Linked DNA regions of Homo sapiens. The protein of the gene in region 2 purifies or fractionates together with the protein of the main gene of each other region. This does not show direct contact. Each region holds a gene or a part of one and is shown on either strand. Other genes may lie near its edges.

The links.
Region 1: the proteins of ABCC8 (region 2) and RAPGEF4 purify together in Homo sapiens (affinity purification with western blotting, with the first as the bait; one study listed by BioGRID). This does not show direct contact.

The regions. Positions count from the first base shown.
Region 1 is NC_000002.12:172,738,575-172,742,395, forward strand, and holds part of RAPGEF4 (rap guanine nucleotide exchange factor 4), read left to right. Parts: intron 1-3,821.
Region 2 is NC_000011.10:17,470,336-17,474,156, reverse strand, and holds part of ABCC8 (ATP-binding cassette sub-family C member 8), read left to right. Parts: intron 1-3,821. UniProt on the Homo sapiens protein: Regulator subunit of pancreatic ATP-sensitive potassium channel (KATP), playing a major role in the regulation of insulin release.

The DNA.
Region 1 (3,821 bases), on a different chromosome or scaffold from region 2:
ATTTCTTCCCAACCACAAATTCCTCTTGTGACCAAATCTAGAGTATAGGAATGTATGCTCTATTTTTATAAAATCTTTTTTATTATGGACATTTTCAACCCTGCACAAAAGAGAAAGTACAATGAACCCATGTGGGTTCACTTGGGAATATGATGCTGGGACCTTTCAACTGGGAAAAGGACGTAACTGGGAAACACAGTTCAAATATATGCCTCATTCAAGTGACAACTGTTGTGGATGGTGAAAAAAAGAGAAACCCTGGGACTGGAAATAAAAAGAGAGTTAAAAGAGAAAGTCTGCAGTAGTAAAGAAGTATACAATGAAATTTGAAGTGAAACAAAACACAAGGAAAATAGAGCCTTAAAGTGTTTGTTAGGAATGCCTAGAAAGCTATCATAGACAGGACAATATTTGCAAGTGGGGAAGGGTGTTGCAAGTGTTGTAGATATGTAGATTAGATTAAAGAAACAAAATCTATAGCTTTTTATGTATCAATCATCCACCATCTTGGACTATGGTGGGACTGAGGAGATGAGGGTCTACAAATACTAATCTTAAAACCAGAAAGACAGGACATTGAACATTTGGATGGATAAACCAACATTGAAAAAAGTCTCAGCAGATGTATTGTTAGAGTAAAACAAGCTCACCACTATCTCAGGGATCTTACCATTTTTTTCTGAGGGGATGGCAACTAGGAACAAATTACATAGTTCCCACTATTTGGGACTTAAGATAGGTAAAATGTCCTTTCTTTTTTTTTTTTAAGTGTGCTGACCATTGTTTAAGTTTTTTTGTTTTTGTTTTTGTTTTTTGAGATGGAGTCTCACTCTGTCACCCAGGCTGGAGTGCAACGGTGTGATCTTGACTCACTGCAACCTCCCCCTCCTGGTTTCAAGTAATTCTCGTGTCTCAGCCTCCCGAGTAGCTGGGATTACAGGCACACACCACCATGCCTGCCTAATTTTTGTATTTTTATAGAGACAGGGTTTCACCATGTTGGCCAGGCTGGTCTTGGACTCCTGACCTCAGCTGATCCGCTCGCCTTGGCCTCCCAAAGTGCTGGGAATACAGGTGTGAGCCACCACACCCGGCCCATTGTTTAATTTTAATGAAAATATTTTTCCCGTAAGATTTTAAATTTGCCAACTGTGAACTTCAGATCCACTTATAAGTCCTAGTTCTCAGGGTTGGTAAAGGAGTATTATGAAGGGACAGGGACCATACACATTCATGTAGTATAGCGACTCATTGCTGGCATTCATCATGATGGGACAGGCATTGACAAGCTATGGCCTGTGGGCCAGATCTGACAGCTTGCCCGTATGTCTCGTGGGCTAAGAATGGTTTTCACATTCCTGAATGGTTGGAAATAAATCAAAAGAAGATCAGTATTTTGTGACCCATGAAATTTAGATGAAATTCAAATTTCAGTGTCTATAAACAAAGTTTTATTGGAACATAGCCATGCTCATTTGGTTACATATTGTCTACAGCTGCTTTCCCGCTGCAGTGGCAGAGTTGAGTAGCTGCAATGGAGACTGTGGGCCCACAGAGCCTGAAATATTTACTATGTGGACCTTTACAGAAAAAGTTTGCCATCTTTTGTTATAGATGAAAGAACCTATCTAAGTGATTGACAGTGAAACCACTGGAGATGAAAGAAATCGTTTTCATTTGGAAAGGAGTTCACAGTGTTTGGTTTCTTGTTCTTTAATTAGAAGTATAGGTTGGAGAAAGGTTCTCAGTTGATTGGCTTATTTGAGGAACACTGGCCGTCACAGCCAAAGCAGATGATGAAGTTAACATGGTTATTCAAAAGGTTGTGATCTTTCAAAGGCAGCAGATGAATTTTTTTTAAGTATTCGTGTTTCAGTTTAAAAATACTCCATGGACAGTTTCCATCTGACTTGCCCCCAAATAGATGTTATTTTAGCTATTTTGATTAGGTTGAATTCGAGTGAAAGAAATCAAGAAACAAATTTGTTAAGAACCAAAATGCTTTGTAGCACACATGGTGAGAGAAGATAACTCAGATATCAAAGAAGCATCAGACATGGGTCCACCCTTGAGAAATGCAGAGGATCAAAGAAGCACACAGAGCAGAAAGGGGTCCCTGGAGGAGGCTAGTATCTACTAGCCATGTCCCAAGGGATGACATTACCCCGGTACATCCTCCAGGGCTCAGGCTGGTCTTGCAATCTCAGAATACTGACTTGTTAGCACATCAAAAATTAATGTATCTTTCAGCAACAGATACACAGGTACCAGACTCTCAGAGACTCTAAAAGCCAGAAAGACAGTTTATTAATTTGACAATAAGATCTGTCACATCAGAGAAGTGGACACTCACGTCCTTTGGCTAATGTATTCTTCCTCTAAGTAAGCCATATGGGAAATCCAATTATTCTCAGAAGTCCGTTTTCTGCATTTACAATGAGAAGCCAAGCTGCCAGGAGGTCAGGATGCTTACATCTTCTGGCCTGTACAGGAGTACATCCTCTTCCTAGAGCAACAGAGCCTGGGAATTGGATGATAATGAGAAGGCAGTTCTGGGAATCGTCCAGGACAGCGTGGCTGCCACCTTTTCCAGTCAGATCACCATTACCTGTGCTCTCACAGCACACTTTGGTCCCACTCTGTAATAACATAGCACAAGTCCGATTCCATTGTAATGGCCTGCTTACTTCTCTTTTCACATCACTTGACTTTAGTCCCTATATTTTATTCATCATTTTATCTTCAGCTTCAGTGCAGTGCCCTGACTAGAGAAGGTGCTAATGGGCCCAGGGCAAGATGGCCACAGGCATCCTTCTCCTCAGGGATGGTGGCCTCTGTAACCCAAAAAGGCCCTTGCACTGGGCCCTTTGCTGGGGAAGGGCGTGGGTGACACCATCCACATCTGCCTCTGTTGCTTCTTCTATGTTTTTTGGCTAATGTGAATACTTTTTTAAAAATGACACTGCATAGCTCTAATCTAATCTATTCTTCCTCCTTAAATCCTCACCCACCTTTGAAAAAAAAACTAACATCTTTTTATTGTGGAAAAAATCAAAATATACAAAAAGAAGAAATAGCAGTATGATTCTTAATTCTTTTTGTTTGTGTGTGTGTTTTTAGACAGGGTCACTCTGTCACCCAGGCTGGAAGGCAGTGGTTTGATCACAACTCACTGCATCCTTGACCTCCTGGGTTCAAACGATCCTCCTGCCTCAGCTTCCTGAGTAGCTGGGACCACAGATGTGTATCTCCATGCCTGGCTAATTTTAAAAATTTTTTGTAGAGATGGAGTCTCCCTATGTTGCCCAGGCTGGTCTCAAACTGCTGGGCTGAAGTGATCTTCCCACCTTGGCCTCCCAAAGTGCTGGGACTATAGGCTTAAGCCACTGTGCCCAGCCAGTATGATCTGTGCCACCCCTTCCCTGGCTCCAACATCATCAACTTACAGCCAACCTTGTTTTGTTTATACCTTCACGCGCTCCCCACTCCCCCCAGGATTATTTTCAAGCAAATCCCATGTATTTCATCTGTAAATATTTTAGTATATGTCTCTAAAAGGTAGTGACTTTTTATAAAGAAAACAATACCACACACATTAAACAACTTGACGTTAGTTCTCTAATATAATCAATTATTCAGTCAGTGTTCAAATGTCCCCATTTACCTCATAACTTTCTTTTTTGCAGTTTGTTTGTATCAAGAGCCAAATAAGTTGCATTTAGTTGATATGTCTATAGGTCTGGGTTCTCTCTTTCTCTCTTTTTCTTCCTTGTAATACATTTCTTGAAGAAACTGGGTTGTTGTTGTTTTTTTCAGTCTGA
Region 2 (3,821 bases):
CTGGGAGGTGAGAGGAAGGCAGAATTGGGCAAGCTCCATGGTTGAGAGGGCTTTGGAGCGGAGTCTGGAAGGGTGACTAGGCTTCAGACACACAGAGGAGGAAGGAGAGAGAGAACTGGTGGTGCCTGAGGGAAGGGAAAAGGCACCAAAGAGAAAAGCAGGTAGGGCTAGGGAGCAGCGCAGGGGCTGGAGCATTAAACACAGGCTGGGGAGCGATGGAGGCTGAGGCTGGGAACCCAGGTTGGGGCATCTCAGGAGGACTGTGAATCCCAGCCTGCATGTTTGGGTCGGATTTGGTCAGCAGTTTGGAACAGAAGAGAGATGTCATCAGCATAACACTTTTAGGTGGGAACCTGAGGTGTTCAGCGCAGGCTGGAGGCAGGGAGAATCTAGAGGTATAATAGAAGCAGGACTTAGCATTGACTGCAGTAGTCTAGGTGAGCAATAACTGCAGACAGAAATGGTGTGTCAGCAGTCAGGGACAGAAGAGGAGCGGGAGCAGCCATCTCACTAAGGAAGAATCCAGTAACCAGCAAGGATGAGAGACTGCCAGGAGAGGGAGTGGTGGAGGAGAGGGATATTTGGCTTGAGTATCTGAGGTCCAGCGCCCCCTGAGCTGGAATCAGATTATACCCAGACTGCACTCCTGCAGTGCTGCCTGGCTCCTGTAGTTGGATGGCAGGGGATAGGCTCCCTCATCCTCCCTCCCGTTCCCCACCTTCCCTTCCCCAATGTCCCTGCATCCTGGCTTCAGCAGTGATCTCTAAAATACCTGCTTGACTTGGAGGCAGCAGCTCTGCCTGCTTATTAAAGTCCCTAGACCAGCAAGAAGACCAGAAGGCATACTGCTACACAAGCACGTGACAAGTCCGCCTCCACCCCCACCCCTACACCCCTTCCAAAGTAGCACAAATGCCACAGTGAGCCCTCAGATGGGAAATACTCACCAGATGGTGACAGAGAAAGACACCTCCGCCCTTGGAGAAGGAAGACCTGGGTCTTCAGTGAGCACTGCTGCTGTGTACCAGCTATGGGACTTTGCACAAGTCATTCAGGCTTTCTGGGCCTCATAAGCATTTATAAACATACGATAAAACATTTTAGTTGCCAACTTAAAAATGTGTGAGAAAGTATAAGGTGTTTCAAAATTATTTCAAGGAGTAAAGAGGCAAGAGTTTTGAAGATCCCTGGGCAGGGTGTTGGCTGTTCCCAGTGTGGCCATTCATGACTGCTCTCTGGCCTTATGAAACAAGCATCATAGTCCCTGGCTTGCCTGCTTCATGGGGCTGTGGAGGGTGAAATTCGAGCATGGACAGGGTGCAGAGCCCGGAGTGGCAGAGCACTGGGTAGACTGTGTATTCCCAGAATGTGGGAAACTGGAATGAATCGGTCCAGGGATGCCCTCCTGCTGGCTGTCAGCAGCCCCTCCTGTGTGTGGCTGTACTGCTTCAGCTCAGTGCAAAGGGCCATCTCCTCCCCAGGGCACAGATCAGCTCAAGCTGAGTAATTGTCATCTGGTCTTTGTGAGCTCCTACCCCCAGGCCTGAGTGAGGGGCAGGAAAAGAGCAGACAGGAGAAGTCACAGACCCTTGTGATACCTCCAGTCTAATCCAGCCTGGGTTTTCAGAGCTGTCTGGAAATTTAGGGGGCAGGTGGGAGGGGGCTGATTAAGGCAGCCCTGATTTGATTTAGAGTGAGCCTCATTTAGTGACTAATTAAGCCATCTTAAACCTGTAGGGCTTCCCCTCTTCCTTTGGGTATTATTTCTTTCTGTGATGTTCTGAATTCAGAACAATCAAAACAGTATAAGTTAGTGAAGAAGATATTTTTTAATAACTACAATATTTTCCCAGACCACCATACACTGGATAAAGCCTGTATATAAAACTTTACCTAATTTCTTAACTAATTGAATGTGTATTATTTAACAAAGCAGCTAAAAACTATTCTATGAAGCCATGTCATGAAATATTTAGTTCAATTATGGTTAATCCTCATCTTATTTCGTCTTATAAAATTTTAACATTTCTACCTCCTATTGCAAAAAAAAGCATTTATATCAGCATATAATAAAACATGTCTAGATGTCAGCTTAAAAATGTGTGAGAGAGTAGAGGGTGTTTCAAAATTATTTCAAGGAGTAAAGAGGCAAGAGTTTTGAAGATCCCCAGGAAGGGTGTTGGCTGTGCCCAGTGTTGCCATTCATGACTGCTCTCTGGCCTTGTCTGTCTTGTACCTTCTATATTAGTTTGAAGACCTTTTTTGGAGAATATTCACTAAAGAATATCAATATCTACCATTTCATTAAAAAAGAAATGTGGAGTTTGCCTTTTCAAGTTGGTTTGATGCTTATTGATGTTTTCAGGGACCCAGCCTCTTCCCATCTTTCCATACCATCCTGTGTGTGTGTGTCAGCCTATCTTCCCCATGGTCACAAGGTGGCTGCCTAGCTCCGGGTATTGCTTAGCATGAGCAGAGAGGGCATGCTGCCGACATGCCTCTCCTTTATGACAGAGATCATTCTTTCTTTGACATCTCACTGGCCAGAATACGTGGACCAACACTGGCAAAGGAGTATGGAATTGCATGGCTGCTTAAACCAATCACCATCCATTCCCTGGGGCTGGGTATATTGCTGCTGGAGCAAACCTGTGGTCCTCCTGGCACAGAATAAGGGGAAGATACTCTTTGGTGGACAGCCCACATTGCCTCTACACTTGCACCTCAGTCCCACCAGACCCACTGAGGTCACAGGATAGCTCTCCTCATGTCCTTCCTCCTTCTCTGTTGAACTCTTATGTATCCTTCAAAGTCCAGCCTGGTGCCACCTCCTCTGGGAAGCTGTCCTTGGTTGCCCACCCCCTCCTTTGTGCTCTCTCAGTCTCTGTCCATCGGCAGTATCACTTCCCTAGCCTGCTGACTCCAACAGTTAGCTCTGAGCATGGCAGCCCCCTCCATACCATCAGCTTCTCAAGGGCAGGGACCCTTGGCACACTGGATAGAAGTAGCCTGGTGGGCAACAGCAGCACTGAGGCAGCAAGCTGTAGCAGGCCATCTGGGAATGGAGTGGGTACCACAGGGCTGGAGCAGAAAGGGCAGGCTGGGCAGATCTGATAAAGTGGCTGGAGGCCACATAGCCTGGGCCTTTCGTTCCAGGCTGAGCAGAGTGGGTTTTGCTGTCTGCAGGAGGGAGCTGTGGAAGGGCATGATCACGACCAACTAAGGTGACCCTCCTCACCAGGCCCAGGGAAGACTGAGGCCTGGAAGGAGGCTCTGGCTGCCTCTGGGTCTTACCCCCAGGCCACAGTCCACCCACTTAGAGGCCTCTGTGAGTTAAGGTGGAGAGACTATGAGCTGGTATTGACTGCTCCATTCCCCATCCCGAGAGAGGAGACAAAATCAGTGACCTTGGAAATGCCTCTTCGTGCCTCAGTTTCCTCACCCCATAAAATGGGAGACTAAGAGTACCCACTCGATGGGGTTTAATGAAGATTAAATGGGTTAACATATATCGCATGCTTAGAACAGTGCCTGGCACAGAGTAAATGCTCCATAAATACTGACTCTCATCAGTTTGTTATCACAGCCTCTGGGGAGGGCGCCAGTGCTGACTTATGCTGTTCGTGTTAAATGGGGCTGTCACTGGGTGAGTTGTGGCATACAGGCCCCTGCACTGTTCAAGAGACCCCAGCAACCCTTGTGCTTAGGGCTCAGCACATAGTAAGGCCTCCAGATCATATACCCAGCTCTACTCCATGTACTGGCAGCTCTGCCCAGCCCATACCCCAAATACGCCCATTAACTAAAGGGCCCTGCAGCCT